Linked DNA regions of Homo sapiens. The protein of the gene in region 1 purifies or fractionates together with the protein of each later gene. This does not show direct contact. Each region holds a gene or a part of one and is shown on either strand. Other genes may lie near its edges.

Region 1 (7,819 bases):
CATCACCCCAAAACAAAGTCTTTAAAATGATCTAAAACAGGGGGTCCCCAACCACTGGGGACTTAACTGGTCTATGGCCTGTTAGGAACCAGGCCACATGGCAGGAGGTAAGCAGTGGGCAGGCGAGCGAGCAAAGCTTCATCTATATTTACAGCTGCTCCCCATTGCTCGCATTATCACCTGAGCTCTACCTCCTGTCAGATCAGGGACAGCATTAGATTCTTATAGGAGTGTGAACCCTATTGTGAACTGCGCATGCCAGGGATCTAGGTTGCACGCTCCTTATGAGAATCTAATGCCTGATTATCTATCACTGTCTCCCATCACCCCCAGATGGGACCATCTGGTTTCAGGAAAACAAGCTCAGGGCTCCCACTGATTCTACATTATGGTAAATTGTATAATTATTTCATTAAACATTACCATGTAATAGTAATAGAAATAAAGTTCACAATAAACGTAATGCGCTTGGATCATCTGAAAATCATTCCCCTCCCTGGTCCAAGGAAAAATTGTCTTCCATGAAACTGGTCCCTGGTACCAAAAAGGTTGGGGATTACTGGCCTAAAATACCCTATTTTATCATGTCTGCCTATTACCTCTCCTACCTTATCTTCTACTACTTTCCTCATTTTCTCTGCTCCAACCACATTTGGACTCTTTGCTACTCCCTGTATACATCAGGCAGAAGGGCCTCTGCTCCACTATTTCCTCTGCATAAATGCCCTTTCTCCACATATCCACTTGGATAATTCCCTTACCACTTCTTTTTAAATCTCACCTTTTCAATAATTGGTCTACCCTTACCACACTGTTTAATACTATACCCCACCTTTCAACTCCTTGCTCTGTTTATCTCCCTTATCCTGTTTCATTTTTCATTTTTCTGTAGCTCTTACTACTTTCAAATATTTACTTAATAAAGCTCCATAAAGCCTTTGATCTTTGTCTGTTTTGTCCACTGACATATTCCCAAGATTCTAAAATTGTGCCTGGATGCTTAGTAGGTACCCAATGAGTATTTGCTTAATAAAAGAAAAAATCATAAGACTAAGCAAAAGTATGCGAAAAGAAGACCTTAATAAAGTTCAGCCCTATTTACGATGATTAAAAAAAAATCTCTTAGCAAGCTTCCTTACCTTAATGAAGATTATATAGCATAAACCTACAAACATCATACCTAATGGAGATATTTAAATGCGTGCCCTTTAAGCCTGGGAACAAAACAAGAAATCAAAGCAAAAAAAAAAAAAATGGTATAAGTTTAGCAAGAAAGTGATATAACTATCATTTTCAAGTGATAAAAAACCTATAGAATCAACAAACTATTAGAACTATGAAGATAGTTCAGCATGGTTGCTGGATAAAGATCAACCTATAAAAATAAGTTGCATTTCTCTAGCCAAGTCACTAACTAGTAAATATAATTCACAGGTATTTACAATAGCTAAAGAAAAAAAAGTATTAAGCATGAAATTAACCAATGATACTGTAAAAGTTTCCATAAAGAAAACTTTAAAATCATAAGAATAGAATATAAGTAATTTCATGACTTTGATTAGGATGACTTTATGTAATAAAGAGGTCAATGGGGTCGGGGGGAGTTGGGTGCACAAGATGGCCAATTAGATGCAGCTGTGATCCATGGCGCTCAGGGAGAGGAATAAAAGAGTGAATTCAGCACCTTCAACTGAAATATCCAGGTTCTCACATTGGGACTGACTAGGCAAACAACTTGATCCAGAGAGAAAGAAGAAATGCAGGGTGGAGCAATGAATGGCCTACCAAGGAACAGCAGGGAGCCAAAGGAAACTCACCCTCAGCCAAGGAAAGTGGTGAGTGATTGTGCCACCCCGCCCGGGAAATCACATTTCTCCCAGAGATCTCTGAAACCCAGATCAGGAAATCCCATCTTTGATCCCAGATCTTTGCAGATCAGGAGATCCCATTGTGAGCCCATGCCACTAGGGCCTTGGGTTCGACACACAGAGCTGTGTGGAGTCTCAGCAGAGCAAACGCTCAGGCACACAATGAGGCCCAGGAGTTTTACAGATTCTGGCCCTGGGATCCTGGCAAGGCAGAAGATATGACAGTGCATATCCCAAGGAAGGGGGCTGAATCCAGGGAGCCAAGCAGTTGTTCTGCACGTCCCACTTCCACAGCACCTCACAAATTAAGACCTGATTTGGAATTCCAGCCACCCAAAGCAAAAGCTGGAGTCCACCTGAAACGGGACAGAGTTCCTGGGAGGAGGGGCAGCCGCCATCTCTGGGAAAGGTCAACTCAGCTGTTCCAGCCTCCCAGCTTTGGAGAATCCAAACAGTCCAGAGGAGGAAGGTACCCCACAACACAGCACAGCTGCTGTGCCAGACTGTGGCCAGACTGCTTCTTTCTTTTTCTTCTTTTTCTTTTTTGAGTTGGAGTCTCGCTCTGTCACCCAGGCTGGAGTACAGTGGCGTGATCTTGGCTCACTGTAACCTCCACCTCCCAGGTTCAAGCGATTCTCCCGCCTCAGCCTCCCAAGTAGCTGGGATTACAGGCACATGCCACCATGCCTAGCTAATTTTTGTATTTTTAGTAGAGACAGGGTTTGCCATGTTGCCCAAGCTGGTCTTGAACTCCTGATGTCAAGTGATCCACCCGCCTTGGCCTCCCAAAGTGCCAGGATTCCAGGCATGAGCCACCACGCTCAGACTGCTGCTTTAAGTGGGACCCCAATCCATTCCTCCTCCCTGGGTGAGACCTCCTTGTAGGGGCTTCAGCCACTCCAGCCAGGGTTACAGGGACAGAGCTGTGATCTCTCCCTAGGACTGAGCTCCTAGGGAGGAGGGGCTGCCGCCATCTCCACGGTTCCCTTTACTCAGCTGTTCCAGCTTGCTGGTTGGCATGAGAAAGGGTTCCCCAGAAGGCAGTACAGCTGCTTTGGCAGATTGTGGCCAGACTGCTTCTTTAAGCAGGACACTGATCCATTACTCTTCACTGGGCAGGACCTCCATGTGGAGGCTTCAGCCACTCCAGCCAGAGTTATACAGACAGAGCTCTGATCTCACTCTGGAACAAAGTTCCTGTGGGGAGGGGCAGCCACCATCTCTGTGGTTTCCTACATCACACTACCCAACTTCAAACTATACTACAAGGCTACAGTAACCACAACAGCTTGGTACTGGTACAAGAACAGATACATAGACCAATGGAACAGAATAGAGAACTCAAATAAAACCACACACCACACACCTACAACCATACGATCTTGGACAAACCTGACAAAAACAAGCAATGAGGGAAGAATTCTCTATTTATTAAATGGTGCTGGAAGAATTGGCTAGCTGTAGGCTCAAAATTGAAACTGGACCCCTTCCTTACACTCTACACAAAAATTAACTCAAGATGGATTAAAGACTTATGTAAAACCCAAAACCATAAAAACCTTAGAAGAAAATCTAGGCAATAGCATTCAAGACACAGGCACAGGCAAATATTTCAAAACAAAAACACCAAAAGCAATTGCAACAAAATCAAAAACTGACAAACGGGATTTAATTAAACTAAAGGGCTTCTGCACAGCAAAAAAAAAAAAAAATCATGAGAGTGAACAGACAACCTACAGAATGGGAGAAAATTTCTGCAATCTATCCATCTGACAAAGCTCTAATATCCAGCATCTATAAGTAACTTAAACAAATTTACAAGAAAAAAACAACCCCATTAAAAAGTGGGCAAAAGACATGAACAGAGAGTTCTCAAAAGAAGACATATATGTGGCCAACAAACAAAAAATAGCTCAACATCACTGATCATTAGAGAAATGCAAATCAAGATTACAATGAGATACCATCTCATGCCAGTCAGAATGGCTATTATTAAAGCTAAAAAACAACAGATGCTGGCAAGGTTGTGGAGAAAAAGGAACACTTTTACACTGTTGGTAGGGTTCAACCATTGTGGAAGACAGTGTGGTGATTTCTCAAAGACCTAGAGGCAGAAATACCATTTGACCCAGCAATCCATTACTGGGTGTATACCCAAAGGAATGTAAATCATTCTGTTATAAAGATACATGCAAGCATATGTTCATTGCAGCACTATTCACAATAGCAAAGACATGGAATCAACCTAAATGCCCACCAATGATAAACTGGATATAGAAAACTTGCTACACATACACCATGGAATACTATGCAGCTATAAAAAAGAATGAGATCATGTCCTTTGCAGGGACATGGATGGAGTTGGAAACCATCATTCTCAGCAAACTAATGCAGGAACAGAAACCAAACACCACATGTTCTCACTTGTAAGTGTGAACTGAACGATGAGAACACATGGACACATGCAGGGGAAAACACACACTGGGGCCTGCCTGACAGGGGCCCTGGGGGAAGGGAAAGTATCAGGAGGAATAGCTAATGGATGCTGGGATTAATACATAGGTGATAGGATGATCTGTGCAGCAAACCACCATGACACACATTTATCTATGTAACAAACCTGCACATCCTGCACATGTACTCCTGAACTTAGAAGGTGAAGCAAAAAAAAGAAGTCAATCCTCTTCAAATTAGTGTATATATTCTGTTGTGGGAAGTCAGGGACCCTGAACGGAGGGACCGGCTGGAGCCATGGCAGAGGAACATAAATTGTGAAGATTTCATTTTAATATGGACATTTATCAGTTCCCAAATAATACTTTTATAATTTCTTATGCCTGTCTTTACTCTCTTAATCCTGTTATCTTCGTAAGCTGAGGATGTATGTCACCTCAGGACCACTGTGATAATTGTGTTAACTGTACAAATTGATTGTAAAACGTGTGTTTGAACAATATGAAATCAGTGCACCTTGAAAAAGAACAGAATAACAGCAATTTTTAGGGAACAAGGGAAGACAACTGTAAGGTCTGACTGCCTGCGGGGTTGGGCAAAAAGAGCCATATTTTTCTTCTTGCAGAGAGGCTATAAACGGATGTGCAAGTAGGGAAGATATCACTAAATTCTTTTTCCTAGCAAGGAATATTAGTATTAATACCCTGGGAAAGGAATGTACTACTGGAGGGAGGTCTATAAACAGCCGCTTCGGGAATGTCTGTCTTATGTCGTTGACATAAGGACTGATATACGCCCTGGTCTCCTGCAGTACCCTCAGGCTTACTAGGGTGGGGAAAAACTCCACCCTGGTAAATTTGTGGTCAGACTGGTTCTCTGCTCTCAAACCCTGTTTTCTGTTATTTAAGATGTTTATCAAGACAATACATGCACCACTGAACATAAACCTTTATCAGTAGTTCTGCTTTTGCCCTTTCCCTTGTGATCTTTATTGGACCCTTATCAGTAGTTCTGCTTTTGCCATTTGTCCTGTTCCCTCAGAAGCATGTCATCTTTGTTAGACCCTTATTAGTAGTTCTGCTCTTTGCACTTTGAAGCATGTGATCTACTCCCTGTTCTTACACCCCCTCCCCTTTTGAAACTCTTAACAAAAAACTTGATGGTTTGAGGCTCAGGCCAGCATTAGAGTCCTACTGATATGTGCTGTCACCCCCGGCGGCCCAGCTGTAAAATTCCTTTCTTTGTACTCTTTATTTCTCAGCCAGCGGACACTTATGGAAAATAGAACCTACATTGAAATATTGGGGGCGGGTTCCCCTGATAATATTCCACGCATCCCAAATAAAATTCCATGTGGACTTTTAAAAAAGAAATTCAATAAGCATACTTTTAAATATATATGAAAGAATAAAGGTTGAAGATTTAGGTTAGTCAATCCTAAGGGAAAAAATAAACATTGAAGACTTGTCCTGCCAGATAAATGACATCCTATAGAGTCACAGTATCAAAAATAGTAACGATAAAAGGCCAAATAAATGACCAATTAAATAAAATAGAAAGCTCAAACTTATCAGTAATGGTTATCCCACAAATTAGTGAGAAAAATAATTGATTAGTAGAAAGTGTTCAGAAAACTAGCTCCCTATGTAGAGAAAAAAAGACTTACTGAGAAAGTGAGGTAATATTCCTACCGAGACCAGAACTAAAAATTAGCCTAATAATTAAGGACTTAATGTGAAAAGTAAAACTGAAAAGTTAACAGAAGGACAGAAAAGGACCTCTAATACATAAGGCAAAACACTTACTGCTTAATTATATAAAAGTTAAGGCTTTCTGTCAAGCAACAGCAATAGACAGATGTCAAAATGGGAGAACATATTTGTGACATCTAAAACCAACAACTAGTTGTTACTGTATCTAGATTTGATTAACTCCTATAAACCAACTGGAAAATGATAACAATTCCAACAAGAATTGGGCAAAATATATAAACAGGAAATTTTAAGAGAAAATCCAAAAGGTTAACATGTATATGAAAAGATGTTCAGACCCAGAGCAAGTTAAAATAGAAATATAGTGTCATTTTACATCTATTACACTGGTAAAAGTTAATAACTGTATAATGCTAATTGTTGACATAGATATGAGGACACAGGATTGGTGGTGCAACTATACATTGGTGTAGTCACTCTGAAGAGCAATCTGATACTCCTCAGGCAAATTAAACATACACATACTTCATGACACAGCAATTCCACTCTAGATGTGTATCCCAGAAACACTTCTAGGTTCATAAGGGGACACATACAATGATGTTCATGGCAGTGTTATCTGTAGTGGTAGGGAGTTCAAGGCTACATAGGTTAGGTGTTCAAAACTGAATAAATCAGTAAAATGTGAGGAATGCACATGAGTATTATGCAGTAGTTAGAAGCAATGGACTAAATGTTCACATAGCAACAATAAGATATAGATCTTAAATGCCTTTTAGATATATCTTAAAACATATGAACAGGAAAGAATGCATAATTTGCAAAAACTTATAAAAACAAAAAATATATAATAAACACATTACAACAATTGCCAAGGAGAGGAGGAGAATGGGAGTGGAGAAAGGGGCTAAGTGAGGATAATCACCTTCTGTAAATTATAATTTACTTATGTTAATTGTCTATCTTTACTATTCTGTAGGCTTCATGAGGGTAGGAGCCTTCACCGTTTACTCTAACATCCCAATCACCAAGAAGAGTGCCTAACACATGATAGGTACTCAAATTTTGTTGAACTAATATATAAAGAGAAGGGCCCTTTACAGACTAGTTGTGATGATATCTGAAACATAAAGAAACAAAAAAAACAAGAATATGTGACATGAAGACTAAGAATATGGGAATATGATTAATCTAACTGGAATAGGGGTTACAGATTATGAAAAGCTGATTTTGAAACATTAATGATTTCACCTGGCACTAATATCTCGGAAGCACAATACTCAGTCGTAATTTAGAAATATGATGTCAACTTCATGGTGCCACATTACGGGGTAGGTCTTGGAGATACTGCCTCCACCTTCAGGGTCCATTAACAAGAAGCACACAATTACAGATTCAAGATATGTATAAGTAGCTTTGAAAAAAAGCATTTTTTAATAGCAGCGTAGCAAATTATATTTTTCTGTGTCAGACTCAAGTAGATCATCAGGATATTAAAATTTCAGACAACTGACTTGATCTAACACAACAACTTGTCCTGCTGGTAAAAGTGAAATAAAAAGTAATCAACTTTCCAGCCATATTCATATATAAAAATGATGTCATAATTATGTATTCTATATTAGAAACATATACATCTCTGCAACTTCTAAATTATTTCCTAGAAATTAACAGGACAGAATAAATGTCATCTTCCCTTATAGATTAATAATTTTTAAAATTATAATACAATTCATGTTGATAACCTAACCCATTTTTCCTTCCTCTACATATTTCAATACAACT
Region 2 (7,819 bases), on another chromosome or scaffold:
AGCAGGGGAGGCAGACAGACAGAGTTTGTTCCTCGAAGGACAGGTCTATGAGGCGAACTGGAGGTCCAGAAACTGCGCTTCCTCAGTCCACAGAGCATGAGGGGTACAGGGGACATGGCATGGGGTGATGGAGTCTGAAGTGTGGGAAGGGACATGTGTGTGCCAGAGGCCTGAGAGGGTGGGGGCATCAAGGGCCCTGGCACAATCTTGCTAGACCCGTGGCCAGACAGTGAGGTCGGGAAGGGGCAGCTGCAATACCAGCACACCTGGGAGTAGACAGTGGCATGGACCCAGGCAAGACGGCGGCTCAGGTGGTCCAGCTTTTCTGAGAAAACCTTCTGGCTCTTGGTCAACTCTGCAAGGATGTCCTTCCTCTGCCACCCAAGGGGAAAGGAGGACAATCAAGACATGGCCCCATACCCAGGTCCACCCTGATCCTGCAGGCAGCCTAGGAAGGGCCCTCTAGTGCCTGGAGCAGGCAAGGGATTGGGCTCCATTTTTCAAAACCTTCTTCTGCCACTGACCCTCTGGTGACCCTGAGCCAGCCTCAGAACAAGGCCATGGTGGTCCCCTCATGACATGGAAGTGAGGCCCAGCTGGGGGTCTGTGAGCCGCTGGCCAGAGCACCCAGGGACCTGATGCCAGAACCGCTGCTCCCCCAGCTGCCAGACCCAGGGATCTGCTGACAGGTCGGGGTGGGTGGGGGCTGTCAGGGAAGCTCAGCCTGGACACACTGGGCCCCACCTTCCTGGGCTAGGGCAGCTACAGCAGAGGGCTCCGGAGGGTGCAGTGGAGCCAGGCCCTGCTTCCTGCTGACTCTGCAAGTGGCCGAGGAAGCACTCAGGGTCAATGAATAATTGATGAGGAGAGTGGGTGTGCTTCAGCACTTATTGGGCCCAGGGGGTGGGGGGCACCTAGGCACAGGCCACACTGGTGATGGGTGCCAGGCCTTGCTGCCAGCCCCACTCTCACTGGCGTGCTATGGCCAGGGCTAGAGTGGGGATGAGAACTGCCAGGGCAGCCCCCAGAACCAGACTTCATCTGTGGTTACCTGTACGAGTAAGCAAGCTGCCCCTCACCAAGACTATGTGGGCCTTACCCTCTTGGGGCACCGGCGGAGCTTGTCCTCTGTGTCCCTCAGAGCCATAGCGTATTCATTGACATCATCGGAGACACCCACCATCTACACAGCATGGGACCACATGTCCAGAGTGCCCCTTGGGCACTTCATCCAGGCTTCTTCAGACCCAGTCTGGACCCCAGCCCTGCCAAGGTCCCAACCTTAGGCCCAGGGCGGTCCCATTCCCACAACAGTCAGCAGGTCAGACTGAGGCAGCAGGAGCAGAAACCAGCCTCGCTGAGGCATGTGCTCCCATGCACGGTCTTGAACAGGCAGCCCTGCGGGCCCATGTGCACACAGGAATACACACACAACCAAACACGCACAACACCCGCCACCCAATGCGGGGTCCAAGAGTGCACGACCTTGCCCAGCTGCTGGTGTACGCTGAGGTTGTACATCATGACCGCCCCATCCAGGACTTCCAGCAGCGAGTTCTCGGTGAGGGGCTGCTCAGGCTCCTCGGGGGGCCGCCCCAGCAGCAAGCCCTCATTCCAGTGGCTGCCTTCAACTGGGGAGTTGGGGAGGGAAGGGTCAAGGGTAGGGCCATCCCGGCTCTCCTGAGCCTGCCTCACAGCAGGAGAGGAAATCATCTCTCCCATTCCTGTGCCCAAGGAGGGACCCGCGGGGAGCCCATGGGGGCATGGGGGTAGGGGTGGAGTGCAGGGCAAGGCCTGCGGTGCCAGGACCTATTTCTGCGGCATTGATCTCCTGCCCTCGGAGTGTGCTTCCTGCACTCCTGGGATGCTGCCAGGCCACAGGGCTGGGAGGGCATGGGGTGTATTTTGGCTTTGCCCGGATCGGGGACTGTACACTGTGGAAGGGTCCTTCGGGGACCTGCCTGACCCCACCAAGCACCTACTGTCCTCACGGGTCCTCTGCTCCACGCTCAGCGTGCGGACCTTCACTTTCTCCGAGGTGCTCAGAGGCCGCCGTGGGGTCATGAGGCTCACAGCCGCTGTGCTGAGGAAGCGGTTGGCTCGGCCCAAAGTTGGAGAACTGAGCCAGCCGGGCCGGGGCAGGGGCAGTGGCCCCCCAACAGCCAGGGCCTGCATGGGGCGCTGCAGTGAAGAAAGGCGGCCAGGACCAGGGCTGGCTCAGGGTTCCCTTGGCCCACGGGGCTGCAGAATTGTGAGGGAGGGTCCATGCCTCCACCCACAGCAAGGCACCAGCCCAGTGAGAAACCCTTTGCCTGCATGGAGCGGGAAGTGGCCCTGGATGAGACCCCTGCCCATAAGATACAGGATAAGCCCAACACAAATCCCACCGCCTGCCCCCACTGCGGCACCTGGGCCATAGCTGGGGCTGGCTCCTCATCCTCATCTAGGTCATCCATGGCGGTTGACTGGAGCTCCAGTGGGTCGATCACAATGTTGGCTTTGGAAGCAAGGTCATCTGGGAGGAAGAGCAGGAGGGTTCTCAGGCCAGTGGTGGCGCAAGGGGCCACAGTGGAAGTGCCCAGGACGGTGAGAGAGCCCAGCACACTGGGCAGGAGGCCTTGCAGAGCCCGGTTTAGCACCGTATCTGCCCCTCGCCCCTCCGCCTCCTCCACCCAGCCTTCACTCTGCATCTCAAGGGCCCCGTCTAGCTGCCACTCAGTAACAGGAGGCCTTCCCCATCACACCCTTCTTTTTCATTTATTTTCAAATTGACTTTCTTTATTCTACATAGATGTAAGCCCATCATGCCCTTCCTGCTGGTCCCTGGCTTTGTTTCCCAGGACTTCCTGCTCTCCAGGGCCTCCCCCACTCTCTGACTACTCCATAAACAAAAGGAGATGCCAGGGCTGCTTCATTCTGGGCACTCCCAGTGGGAGCCAAGCCTCATCCCAGGCTCATCCCCACCACCGTGCTGACAACTGACCCCGCCTTCGCTGCCCCCCGCCCAGGCCTTGCTCCCCGCTAAACGCGCTGTGTCCAAACAGAATTTCTCATCTCCACCACCTCCTGCAGCCCCTCTCCCTGATGGCACCCCATCCACACAACCTCTGGCAGGAAGCCTGGGGTCATCCTGACTCCTCTCCTCCACCTGTGCCCTCCCCTACCTACCTGGGCAGGCCCTTATCTCCTGTGTGGGGACACCTGGGCTCCCTGTCTCTCAGCCCCTGCACTCCGGCGTATACACTGCGGCAGCCAGAGAGAGGTTCTGACAGCACAGACCCACCCTTGTGCCCGGCTCAGGGCCTTGCTCTCGCTGTGCCCTCAGCCCTGCACCGGGGCAGCTTGTGCTCATCCCTGAAGGCAGCTCCGGCAGCACCTGCACGCCCCATCCACACCTCACCAAGATCCCTGGTCCCCTGCCAGGCACGCCCGACCCCTATGGCGTGGGTGCTGGCGGGAAAGAGAAGCTGCCCAGATGTAGGGCAGGCAGATCAGTGTCTCCCTGCCTGAGTGGGTGGAAAGACTTGGGCACCCTCTGGTGGCCATAGGATGGCTCAGCATCCACAGCAGAGCAGGCTCAGGGACAGTCCCCCACCTGGCCCCAGAACTGCTCCCGGCCCACAGGCCTGTACACACCTTTGAGGGTCTTCCGCAGGTGCGAGAGGAGGCCCCCCAGGCGCTGCAGGTCAAAGTAGTCCACCTTGCCATTATAGAAGACCTGGGGCGGGATGTAGGCCTCTGCGAGGAATTGAGGAGGCTAGGCCAGTGGTCACGGCCCAGTAGGAAGACCCTCCCCACAGCCCTCCCCTCCAATCTGGCCTAGCACAGCCTGGGAATTCTGGCTTTGGCCACTCACCCATCCAGGCAGACAGAGAAACTGTCTCCTGGACCAAGAAACAGACCTCCCCTACCTCTTCTCCACCCCTGCCATTTCAGGTCAGAGCCAGCAGCTGCATAACTTGGGGTGATGGGGGTACTCATGGCAGCCGTTCACTCAGGAGAAGCAGAGAGGCCCAGCCCCAGTCCTGTGGGATATCCCCCAATCCAGGGCAGGTAAGGCTCCCACTGACCCTTGGGGACTCAAACACAGGGCCCCCCAGCACCCACCCAAGGCAGCCCTATAAAGGACGCACAGAGAAATGGGGGGGCAAGGACGGAAGAAAAGAGCCCACAATGGTAGGAGCCCGTGGGACAATCAGAGCAAACACAGGATCGGCAGGCCTGCGGTGCAGGGCTCCTGCTGCCCCAGTGGAGAAGCCGCCTGTGGCTGGGTAGGACTCAACCAGGCAGGATGCCGGGGACAACTCCCCACAGCCCACAGCCTCAGCTCAGCACTCTGCACTAACATTAGGGGCTGCCCTACGCCTGGCTCTGTCCAGCCTCACTGACCTGGGACCCCGGTGCCACTCACCCTCACTGAAGGAAGCATGAGGATTGGAAGCCTTGTATTCATCCCAATAGTAGCGCAGGGCAGAGATCAGCCGGTGTAAGAAGCAGACCATGTACTCAGGGGGGCAGAGCATGGGCATGTTCTGTGGACACCAGGCATGAAACATGCATTGGTGCCAGTCCAGTGCCTTGCCCATTCCTCATCCAAGGCCCTGCCTGAGGGTCGAGGGTTAAGCAGGGAGGGAAAAGCAGCAGAGAAAAGCTTGGGGCTAGGCAGGGATGAGGCAGTCCGAGAAGTGCCAGGTGCTGAGGGCATGGCATGTGTAGTGCAGCCGGGGATCCACAGTGGGCTGGCCTGGAGGACACCTACCCCCCGGCCACTGGCGTTCTCCTGCAGAAACTTGCGAAACTTGGTCAGGAAGATATACCTAGAAGCTTCACCCTTTGAGAGAGGGAAAAGTGAGGCTGTGCTGAGCTGAGAATGCAGGCCCAGACTGGGCTGGCTCAGTGCTGCACCTTCCCCCAGCCCCTGCCATGGGAACCAAACCCAGTTCCCACCCTCTGGGTCTTAAGGCCCAGTGCAGCATCCCTCCCCACAGGGCCCCACCCAGGGCTCCTGGGAGTCACTCACCCCATTGTCATCTTTATTGTCCAGCAGCAGCTTCAGGATCTGGACCTGTAGTTCTTCCACCACTGGAGGTCAGGTGAGGAACATGGCCCTCAGGCTCCAGGAGATGGGGGGCAGGTTTGGGCCAGGGCTCCACCACCAGGGTTCCCCAAGTCCCACCTAGACATGGGCACCTCCAAGCACCCTCATGTGCACACACACACCTCCCACCCTACCCCGTGCCCAAGGCGGGCTGACCTTCGATGCGCTTCCTGAGCCGCTGACAGCCCCGTTCGTAGGCTCGCCGCCGCAGCCGCTCCTCTGCGGTCTCCTCCTTCATCTCCGTGCTCTCTTTGCCCTAGGCAGGGGTAGCAGGTGGAATACAGCAGGGTCACCTGGGACCTAGCCAGGCCTCCTTCACTCAGAACACCCACACTCCATCTCCAGGGCTTCAGGGACCAGGGCCAGTGAAAAGGCCTCATGCTAGATGCCCAGTGGCCAGATGCCCAGGCCAGGGGCCTTGCCATGACCTCTGCCCATCCCACTTGGGGTGCACTCACCTCCCTACTGGAGCAGTGGGGCCACCAGGTGGTGGGAATGAGCTCCTGCAGGCCGGCCTCCTCCACACGCAGGGGGCTCTTGATGTAAAAGAAGACGACGGAGCGGAGCACGTCGAAGCTGGCGGGTGTCAAGGCAGGGCTCTGCTTGCCAAAGGGCACTCTGCACACCCTCAAGAGTCCTTCCCCAGGAGCCCATCCCTGGATGTGCCTACCACAGCTCTCCCACCACCACAGGGGCATGTTGCTGCTATGTGTCTGACCCCCAGGGCATGCTCCCTGACAAAAAGCTGTGGTGGTTAAGCCCACCAGCTCCAGTACCCAGCAGGTGCACGATAAGGGCTTGTCACAGGAACAGATGACTGTGGGACAAGCTGGAGAGAGGGACTGGTGGCCTTTTCTCAGGCCCCAACTCTGACCTCTGTGTCTCCCAGCTTTGTGTCTGCCTCCTGGAGGCTGGAAGACCCCAGACCAAGAAAACGGCTACAAGCTGAGGCTTCCCAGCCAGGGGCTCAAAGCTATGCTCTCACTCACTCATGCAGTTCCCAACAATTCTGGGAAGCAGGAAGAGCTGCCTCCTTAAAGATCTTGCAGGAATCCCCACTGTGGAACATGAACAAAAGTGCTGGGCTGTGGCCGAAGAGGGCAGGCCCTGTGGCCCCTCCCACACCTCTGCGTAGCCCGAGTCTGCAGTCATTCAGAACCCCCTGGCTAGGCTGGCTGGCCAGGCTCAGTCCTTTGCTCTCTCGTCCTTGCTCTGTAGAGAAAATGCCACGTTGGGCAGCTCTGGTCCTCCTGATGCTCCCAGGGGACCCCTGGCCTGATGACACTCCCCTTCCTGGCCTCTGCTGAGTCCAGAGGGCACCCCATGTCTGGCCTGCCAGGCAGCAAGGAAAGGATACAGGACATTGCTAAGCAGAAACTTGCGGGACTTCTCATGCCTCAGGATGGCGATAGTGAGCCGCAGGTAATGGATCTGTGGAGAGGGGGCGTTCAGAGTGGACAGGCGAGTCCCAGGGGGCTCAGGGCAGGGGTAGGGGCTCCCACCTGTAGGCCCAGGTCTGGGACAATGGGTGAGAATCGGTACAGCCGAAGCAGAGACATCATCAACTGCTTGAGGCAATCTTGTACCTCGTAGTCCTGGGGGAAGAGATGCCAAGGCAGCCATGACTGGGGCCTTTTCCAAGATTCTCCCCGTATCTTCCCGACCCCAGTGAAGACTGACAGCCAGGCCTGAGGCCTGAGGTCAGGAGCCTCACCTCCATGAAGAGCCACAAGAGGTCCAGGACCTGGTGCACCACGGACTGTGCCTGTGTGGGTGTGCCCTTCTCCACGATGCCCAGCAAGAAGCTCATGAGCACAGCCTCCACCAGATACACCTTGCGCTGCACCAAGGCCAGGCACTGGTGAGGTGGTGGCCTTCCACTCTGGTCAAGGCACCCCTGCCCTGGCACATGGCCAAGGCACAAGCCTCAGGCACAGAGCCTTGAGCCACTCGAGCAACACCAAACATAGATGACCCCTTCCGGGGTCTGACTGAGGGACAAGAAGGCCATTGCCCCACGGCTCCTCTAAGGCTTGGCACACGCAGTTTCCTTGGCCTGGGATGTTATTATCCTTCAGTCTTCTTTCCAGGACATCCCCTGATGCCCTTGGTTGGCAATGTCCCTGTTTCCCTAGGGGACTGACTGAGGTCTGAGGGCCCTGGTCACATGGGGCCCTCGCCAGGTGATGCTGTGGGACCTCAGCACTGCAGCCCTCAGTGAGGGCACATCTACCACGGGCGTGTCTAGCATGGCCTGTCTCCTCCCCTCCCATGCCCCTCCCAATGCCGCTCACCAGAAGCGGTGCAAAGTGATGGAAGATGTGGGCCAGTGTGAGGAGGACGGTGGGCTGGCCCCGCAACCGCCACTTGGAGCTCTCCTTGTCCAACAGCCGCCCCTCCTGTGTGGAGGGGGAGGAGGGAGAAGTGTGAGGGGCAGGAGGCTGTGGAAGCCCCCCACCCCGCCTGGCCCAGACCCCAGCTCACCACAGGGTCCAGCTCCACACTCAGCACTGCCCGGAAGCAGCCCAGCAACCTCTGTGCCCGCACCAGGTCAGCACTCGGTGGGTCCTGCAGGGGCCGGTAGCCTGCCACTGGGTAGGTGCCAGAGTTAAGCCAGCAACGCCTTATCTGTGGCTCAGACATGCCTACTCCCTCTCCACTGCCCACCCCCCACCCCGGGGCCTGGGCTCTAGGGCAGGGCTGGTTTGCATCACAACTTGC
Region 3 (7,819 bases), about 130 Mb from region 1:
TACAGGCGTGAGCCACCACGCCCAGCCATGGAGGGTTTTCTTTAAAGGTTCACATCTTAAAAAAAATACAGACACACTGAAGGACATCAAAACACGGGATTCTGCCCATCAGTGTGAGGAAATAAACCAGAAACTGAACAACGGCATCTGCAACACAAATAATGGGAAAAGGGTCAGCATCCAGGAGGTGAGGACCTTTCTGAATGAATAAGAAAACAATCCAAGAGAAAAGCAGGCCAAACGCTGAGCGGAAGGTCTCTCACAGCCAAGGTTCTACAGGCGGCCAATACGCTTCTGAAAGAAGGCCAGCCTTCAAGATCAGGGCACGGCCATCGCAGCTCCAGAGACACTTCCAGCCTGCTCGGGTGGCAAAGGCCCTCCCAACATCCAGGAACTCAGCTCCTGGGGACCAACAGGTCTGTAATCCCAGCACTTAGGGAGGCTGAGGCAGGTGGATCACGAGGTCAGGAGTTCGAGACCAGCCTGGCAAACATGGTGAAAGCCGTCTCTACTAAAATACGAAAAATTAGCCAGGCGTGGTAGTGCACGCCTGTAATCCCAGGTACTCAGGAGGCTGAGGCAGGAGAATTGCTTGAACCTGGGAGGCGGAGGTTGCAGTGGGCCGAGATCATGCCATTGCACTCCAGCCTGGGTGACAAGGCGAGACTCTGTCTCAAAAAAAAAAAAAAAAAAAAATCAGGAGTGGCACCACATGTAGACAACCCAACGAGCCCTGGGTTCCCAGTGCCTTCCATCAAGAAAATACTCCACAACCCCCACAAAGAACGCAGTCAGTCACAGAGGCCTGCTTAAAACATGATTCTACTTACACAAAGGCAGCAGCAAATGAGAGATTGTTTAAGGAGACACAAATACGGCAAAACTCTACCGGGAAGCAGAGAGGTAAGCCGCGGCCACGGCGACGGCCACACCGGAGGGAGGGATGAGGTGCATAGGGGAGGGGCACCCCAGGCCCAAAGCTGAATAGTAGATACATGGCTATTAGTTTTATTCTTCTTTAAAGTTACATCATCATATACACTTTTGTATGTACGTATCTCACAATAAAAATAAACCATTGCCATCGAAGACCCTGACGAGTAGTAAGAGCAAAAGCCCAAACCACACCTTGTCCTCCCGTGAGTTCCTAAGCTGCTGGCGCAGTCTCCACCCCGCTGGCCCTCGGAAAGCCACTGGCACTGGTTTTCTGAGGCCTATGTCAGGGTCATCGCGCAGGAGACAGTCACACCACGATCAGAACCTGACCTGCGGGCCCCACAGTGACGTAGCGGGACTACACCCGCAGGATGCCAACCTGCATGGCAGGACGTGCTGCCAGCGCACGGCGATCCTCAGCGCTGGATCCTCCGTATCGCCTCCGCAGCACCTATTTGTCCTGCAAGGGAACCAGCCAGCCTCCCCGACCCGAGACTTAGCATAAAGAAGGCGCACATACCTAGCAATGTTTTCGGGTTGGTCAGGCCCAGCTGCACCACCGGGTTATCCAGGATGGCCTGAAAGAGAGGACTGTCGGGGTCGATGCCCTTGTCCAGCTCCTCCGGAGAGGGCTTCCGGTCCCCCAGCAGCCACTCGCACTGCAAAGCCAAGAGCACCAATACCACTGTTAGCGCCTTCAGTGCCTCCGCAAGACGCCACCAGCAGCAGGCATGACAGCTCCTGCACCTTTCTGTGAGTTCCTGTTGAGCCCCCAGGGCTGATCTCCCTGGAAGGGACTCTACCGTGAAGACAAACGCAGTCTGGATTCACTGCCGTGCGTGTCAGACCAGGCCAGAGAAGGAAGAGCTAGTCCGCTTTTCTCTGCAGACCCTGGTGTCGCAGGGATCACTGACTGCTGCCGCTTCCCCACTTACCTGGGCCAGTGTGGCCCACCCAGGAGTGTTGGGAAGGTGATTAACAAATGTACCAAGTGCCCAGCTTGCCTGTGGTCCTGTTATGGGCAGTCAGCAGTGCTGGAGCCATGAGGACACAGGCTCCTCATCTCTGTCTTGGAGGTGTGAGCCACGAACTCCACTGGCACGGGGGATGGTGGGGGGGGGATGTGGGCCACCACAGGGACCTCCCCAGGCACAGCTCCATCAGCCCAGCTGGCACACGGGCACAGGACGGGAATCATTCTTGAGTCAGTTTAATCAGAAAAATGGGCTGGGAGTGGTGGCTCATGCATGTAATCCCAGCACTTTGGAAGCCAAAGCAGGAGGATCGATTGAAGCCAGGAGTTCAAGATCAGCCTGGGCAACAAAGGGAGATCTTGTCTCTAAAAAACTAATTAGCCGGGCATAGTGGTGCATGCCTGTGGTCCCAGCTACTCAGGAGGCTGAGGCAGGAGGATCGCTTGGGCCCAGGAGGTCGAGGCTGCAGTGAGTGTGATCACACCGCTGCACTCCAGCCTGGGGGACAGAGTGAGACCCTGACTCCAAAAAAATTAAAAAAAAAAAAAAATGAACAAATTACCCATCCATAAAATATGTACATATAAGGCACCCTTTTAAAAACCTAGAATTCCGTATTTTTAAATTTTTATACTGTTTGAGCCATCTATCCAATTGTCTCACTTTAAAAGCCACATAGCCGGCTGCATGTGAAAGTAGGCAAACACACGGCCTCCACCACGCCCGGGGCGCTCACGAGTGAGGCTCCCAGCACTCGCCCAGCCTGACACACTCACTCACCACAGCCCACACTCACAGCCCACACTCACTCACCACAGCCCACACTCACTCAGCCCACACTCACTCATCACAGCCCCCACTCACTCACCACAGCCCACACTCACCACAGCCCACACTCACTCACCACAGCCCACACTCACTCACCACAGCCCACACTTACCACAGCCCACACTCACTCACCACAGCCCACACTCACTCACCACAGCCCAACACTCACCGCGGCATTCTGCTGGTTGTTGTTCACTCTGAGGGCATCTATCACCTCTTTCTCGTCGAACCCCATCTCCATCAGGGAAATGACGGCCTAGAGGACAGCACAGCCGTTAGCTCGCTGGGGGCGGCAGGAGGCCGAGGAACCAGTGACCTGCGTGCAGAGGGGCCCGCTCCCCGCACCCTAGCGGAGGGTGCTCCCAACAGCACTGAGGACGCTGTCCGTCCACGTTCTTTCCTCACAGCTCTGCTAAAACAGATCTTGGTTTTCAGCATCCTAAAGCCGAGGAAGTGCAGGGATGACTGTAGTTAGCAGAGCCGGGGGGCAGTGCAGCTCCCAGGCTTGTCTTCAGGGAGCCACAGGTTGTGACAGGTAGAAACGCATCGCTTATGTGGACACGAGGCAGTCAGGCCAACTTCAGACCCTTTCAGGTTTGTCCCGATGACTGTGTGGATAAGACTGTCTCGGCAGCCACCGCAGGTTTACCCCAGAGGGCCTTGTTACCCAAAGAGAAGTGGCATTAGGGAAAGGCCACGTCAGTAAGTGCAATCTCAACGGAAACAAAAATGCCATTGTAACCTGTGAAAAAAGGTTTTATTCAGATTTTATCTTAGAAAAAAAAAAATCCTAGGGCCGGGCGCGGTGGCTCACACCTGTAATCCCAGCACTTTGGGAGGCCGAGGCAGGCGGATCACCAGGTCAGGAGATCAAGACCATCTTGGCTAACACGGTGAAACCCCGTCTCTACTAAAAATACAAAAAAATTAGCTGGGCGTGGTGGCAGGCGCCTGTAGTCCCAGCTACTCGGGAGGCTGAGGCAGGAGAATGGCATGAACCTGGAAGGCGGAGCTTGCAGTGAGCCAAGATCGCGCCACTGCACTGCAGCCTGGGCGACAGAGCGAGACTCCATCTCAAAAAAAAAAAAAAAAAATCCTAAAACTAATTTTTTAACTTTTAATATTGAACAAAACTTAAGCTACAACTGAACATATGCTAATTCGTTTTTGGGGAAGGACATACATTTTCTGGACACAATTCATGTAACAAGATAATACATCCTCTACTCTGGAGATTTATACCACAATGTTTAAAGGGGTCCATTTTGAAAAAATATAAATAAGTAAGATGAAGGCTTCATCAAAATTTCAAGGGCCTCTCCTAATCCCTGAAAGGTCAGATCCCACTCTCTTGAAGCCCCCAGAGTCCTCTCCATCTTTGGCAGTTTTCCGGCCACCATAAGGTGGTCTAGGGGTGCCAGCCCCACACAGCTCCCAGCACCACCCAGGCTGACTTCATGCAGCACTGCACCCCGCGGACGGTGCACGTCCACAGCCAGTCTGGACTGCACCATCAGATGCTTCCAAGAGAACCTGGCAGAAAAAGACTTCAGCTGGGGTGGAGCTCAGGAAGGATGCTGGCTAGAGCTAAACTGTGTGCATGATCAGGTCAAAAGTCCCAGCCGGGAGCAGTGGCTCACGCCTGTAATCCCAGCACTTTGGGAGGCCGGGGTGGGAGGATCACTTGAGGTCAGGAGTTTGAGACCAGCCTGGCCAACATGGGAAAACCCCATCTCTACTAAAAATACAAAAAGTAGCTGGGCGTGGTGGCGGGCACCTGTAATCCCAGCTACTCGGGAGCCTGAGGCAGGAGAATCGCTTGAACCTGGGAAGTGGAGGTTGCAGTGAGCCAAGATCGCACCACTGTACTCCAGCCTGGGCGACACAGTGAGACTCCATCTCAAAAAAGAAAAAACTCTGTATTTTCTATTTATGGTCCATCACAATTGCCTTCCTGAGCCACACCCTAATCCAGGAGCTCCAACAATGAACTCTGGAAGAACCCACCGCACAATATTTTGATATCAAAGTCATACAGAATAGCCTGGAATCTACTGAATTCAAGGACAGGATGCCCTCCTCACTAGCTTCAATAGGAAGTACTGTCGCTCATTTCTACCTCAGCCCAGGAAATGATGCCCCAGTACTCCCAAGGCAACACCTGGCAGTCCCTGCCCTCCCTCCCAGCCCATGGGGGCAAAGACTTGCTTGTGGGCAATGGGAGAGGGGCCTTGCGCTCACGGGCTGCAGGACGTCGGGCCCTGCCAGCTCTGCCCCCGGACAGCAGGCATCCTGTCTACCACTGGGAAGGGAGGGGCAGCAGGAAATCTGTTTTGGCCTCAAGTCAGAGCTCTCCAATCCTTTCTCAGTAACAAAGCTAGTATCTCGATCCCTACTGGACGACTGCCTGATCTCATGACTTGTACAGAAACCAAAGGCTAGGAGGACTGATGGGCTGGCCCCTCAAGCCTTGACCACCTTGTGATGATTTTCATCAAAGAAGACATTCTACGGAATGTTGTTCTGACACAGAGAGATGACGGGAGGGAATGGCAATGGGGAAGATCTTAGGAAAACGAGCACGTTAAGATTGTTAAGAATGAGCATCCATATTTAACAAAAAGGCTTAAGATGGCAAGAAAGTATATGACTAACAACCTCCAAGAGACCGTGCAGGACCACAACACACGAGAGTGCGAAGTCCAACCTCAGAGCACAAGGGACCCAGCTGGAGAGTGACTGCTCCACTTGGACAGGCTTCCAGGATCAGATGTAAACTTGGCTCCCTAGGAGACAAGCACAACGAGACAAACTTCCTGCTAAACCTAGAAATGCTAGATGAAAATAAAACAAAAATGCTTTTAGGTTAGGCACAATGGCTCATGCCTGTAATTCCAGCGCTTTGGGAGGCCAAGGCAGGAGGATCACTTGAGGCCAGGAGTTCAACACCAGCCTGGGCAACACAGGGAGATCCCTATCTGTACAAAATTTTAAAAAATAAAAAATTAGCCCTGTGTGGTGGTGCGTGCCTGTAAGAGCTACTCAGGAGGCTGAAGTAGCATCATTTGAGCCCAGGAGGTCAAGGCTGCAGTGAGCCATGATTGTGCCACCGCCACTCCAGCCTGGGTGACAGAGTGAAACTGTCTCAAAAAAAAAAAAAAAAAGAGAAACTTTTACATGCAGAGCTAACCTCACAAGAAAGGGATATCCACAAGTGAGAAACCCAAGAAGGAAGAGACAGAAAGCTAGCCCTGGGAGAGGGTGTGCGCAGGGGCTGCCCTGGGAGGGCGGGGTCTGATGTCTACACACAGACAGAACGTGCGCCTTGGGCCCATGGGAGGTAGGGAGTGGGAACTGAGACCCTTACTTAAAACAGGACCCTGAAAAGATGAGAAAATAGACTAGAAAAGCATTTGTCTCAATGGGATCTAACTAAAGAGCTTCTGCACAGCAAAAGAAACTACCCTCAGAGTGAACAGACAACCTACAGAAGGGAACGTTTTTGCAATCTATTCACCTGACAAAGGTCTAATATCCAGAATCTACATGGAATAAACAAATTTACAAGAAAAAAACAACCCCATTAAAAAGTGGGCAAAGGACATGATCAGACTCTTCTCAAAAGAAGACAGTTGGCCGGGCGCAGTGTCTCACACCTGTAATCCCAGCACTTTGGGAGGCCGAGGCGGGCAGATCGCTTGAGGTCAGGAGTTTGAGACGAGCCTGGCCAACATGGTGAAACCCTGTCTCCACTAAAAGTACAAAAATTAGCTGGGCGTGGTGGGTGTGTGCCTGTAGTCCCAGCTACTCAGGAGGCTGAGGCAGGAAGAATCCAGCCTGGGCGACAGAGCAAGGCTCAACATCACTGATCATTAGAGAAATGCAAATCAAAACCACAATGAGATACCATCTCATGCCAATCAGAATGATGATTATTAAAAAGTCAAGAAACAACAGCTGCTGGTGAGGCTGTGGAGAAATAGGAACGCTTTTACATTGCTGGTGGGAATGTAAATTAGTTCAACCACTGTGGAAGACATGTGGTGATTCCTCAAAGACCTAGAAACAGAAATACCATTTGTCCCTGCAATTCCATTACTGGGTATATACCCAAAGGAATAGAAATCATTCTGTTATAAAGATATGTGCACACGTATGTTCACTGCAGCACTACTCACAATAGCAAAGACATAGAATCAACTCAAATGCCCACGGATAAGAAAAGAAACCGGATAGACTGAATAAAGAAAATGTGGGATATATACACCATGGAATACTATGCAGCCATAAAAAGGAACGAGATCACGTCCTTTGCAGGGTCATGGATGAAGCTGGAAGCCACTGTCCTCAGCAAACTAACACAGGAACAAAAAACCAAGCCCCTCATGTTCTCACTTATAAGTGGGAGCTGAAAAATGAGAACACATGGACACAGTGAGGGGAACATCACACACCGGGGCCCATCAGGGGGTCTGGGGGAGGGAGAGCATCATGAAAAATAGCTAGTGCATGCTGGGCTTCATACCTAGGTGATGGGCTGACACGTGCAGCAAACCACCATGGCACATGTTTACCTATGTAACAAACCTGCACATCCTGCATATGTATCCCAGAACTTAACATTAAATTAAATTTTAAAAGAAACAAAGAAAAGCATTTGTCTCCACGGAACCCTGTGCAGGGAAGACCTGAGCTGCGAAGCCGGGGGTTACACTGCGGGACATGGTGGGGCAGGGGCCCCACTCATCACCAGCAGAAGCAAACTCAGAATCACCCCAGGTGGATGTCTACAGCCTGGCCACATGGAACTCCATGGAAAACACGAGCTCCGCAGGTGAGGCCACAGCACAATGTCACACACCCCAAGGAAACGATCAGTGCCACACGAGACGACAGCATGCAGATGGAGCAGATCTGCCATCTGAGCATGTCGGAGACAGACAGAAACCTCCAAGGAGGAAGTAAAACCCGAATCAAAGAACAGGAGAGAGAAGGAAGAATGGGGAGATGAGGCGCGGGCGAGGAAGGTCCACACACACAGGCGCAGGGACCCTTCAGCCCTGCAGACTGTGCCATGGAGG

Evidence for each region.
Region 2: the proteins of INSL6 (region 1) and RNF123 purify together in Homo sapiens (co-immunoprecipitation; 3 studies listed by BioGRID and IntAct, with this or other methods). This does not show direct contact.
Region 3: the proteins of INSL6 (region 1) and UBAC1 purify together in Homo sapiens (co-immunoprecipitation; 3 studies listed by BioGRID and IntAct, with this or other methods). This does not show direct contact.

The regions. Positions count from the first base shown.
Region 1 is NC_000009.12:5,175,480-5,183,298, forward strand, and holds part of INSL6 (insulin-like peptide INSL6 precursor), read right to left. Parts: intron 1-7,819. UniProt on the Homo sapiens protein: May have a role in sperm development and fertilization.
Region 2 is NC_000003.12:49,699,346-49,707,164, reverse strand, and holds part of RNF123 (E3 ubiquitin-protein ligase RNF123), read right to left. Parts: intron 7,698-7,819; coding exon 7,583-7,697; intron 7,498-7,582; coding exon 7,393-7,497; intron 6,939-7,392; coding exon 6,813-6,938; intron 6,694-6,812; coding exon 6,601-6,693; intron 6,530-6,600; coding exon 6,456-6,529; intron 5,675-6,455; coding exon 5,557-5,674; intron 5,355-5,556; coding exon 5,255-5,354; intron 5,083-5,254; coding exon 5,021-5,082; intron 4,832-5,020; coding exon 4,760-4,831; intron 4,533-4,759; coding exon 4,412-4,532; intron 3,739-4,411; coding exon 3,637-3,738; intron 2,516-3,636; coding exon 2,409-2,515; intron 2,182-2,408; coding exon 1,983-2,181; exon of another isoform or gene 1,979-1,982; intron 1,632-1,978; coding exon 1,486-1,631; intron 1,184-1,485; coding exon 1,100-1,183; intron 375-1,099; coding exon 267-374; intron 1-266. UniProt on the Homo sapiens protein: Catalytic subunit of the KPC complex that acts as E3 ubiquitin-protein ligase. Promotes the ubiquitination and proteasome-mediated degradation of CDKN1B which is the cyclin-dependent kinase inhibitor at the G0-G1 transition of the cell cycle.
Region 3 is NC_000009.12:135,936,766-135,944,584, forward strand, and holds part of UBAC1 (ubiquitin-associated domain-containing protein 1), read right to left. Parts: intron 2,995-7,819; coding exon 2,908-2,994; intron 1,596-2,907; coding exon 1,457-1,595; intron 1-1,456.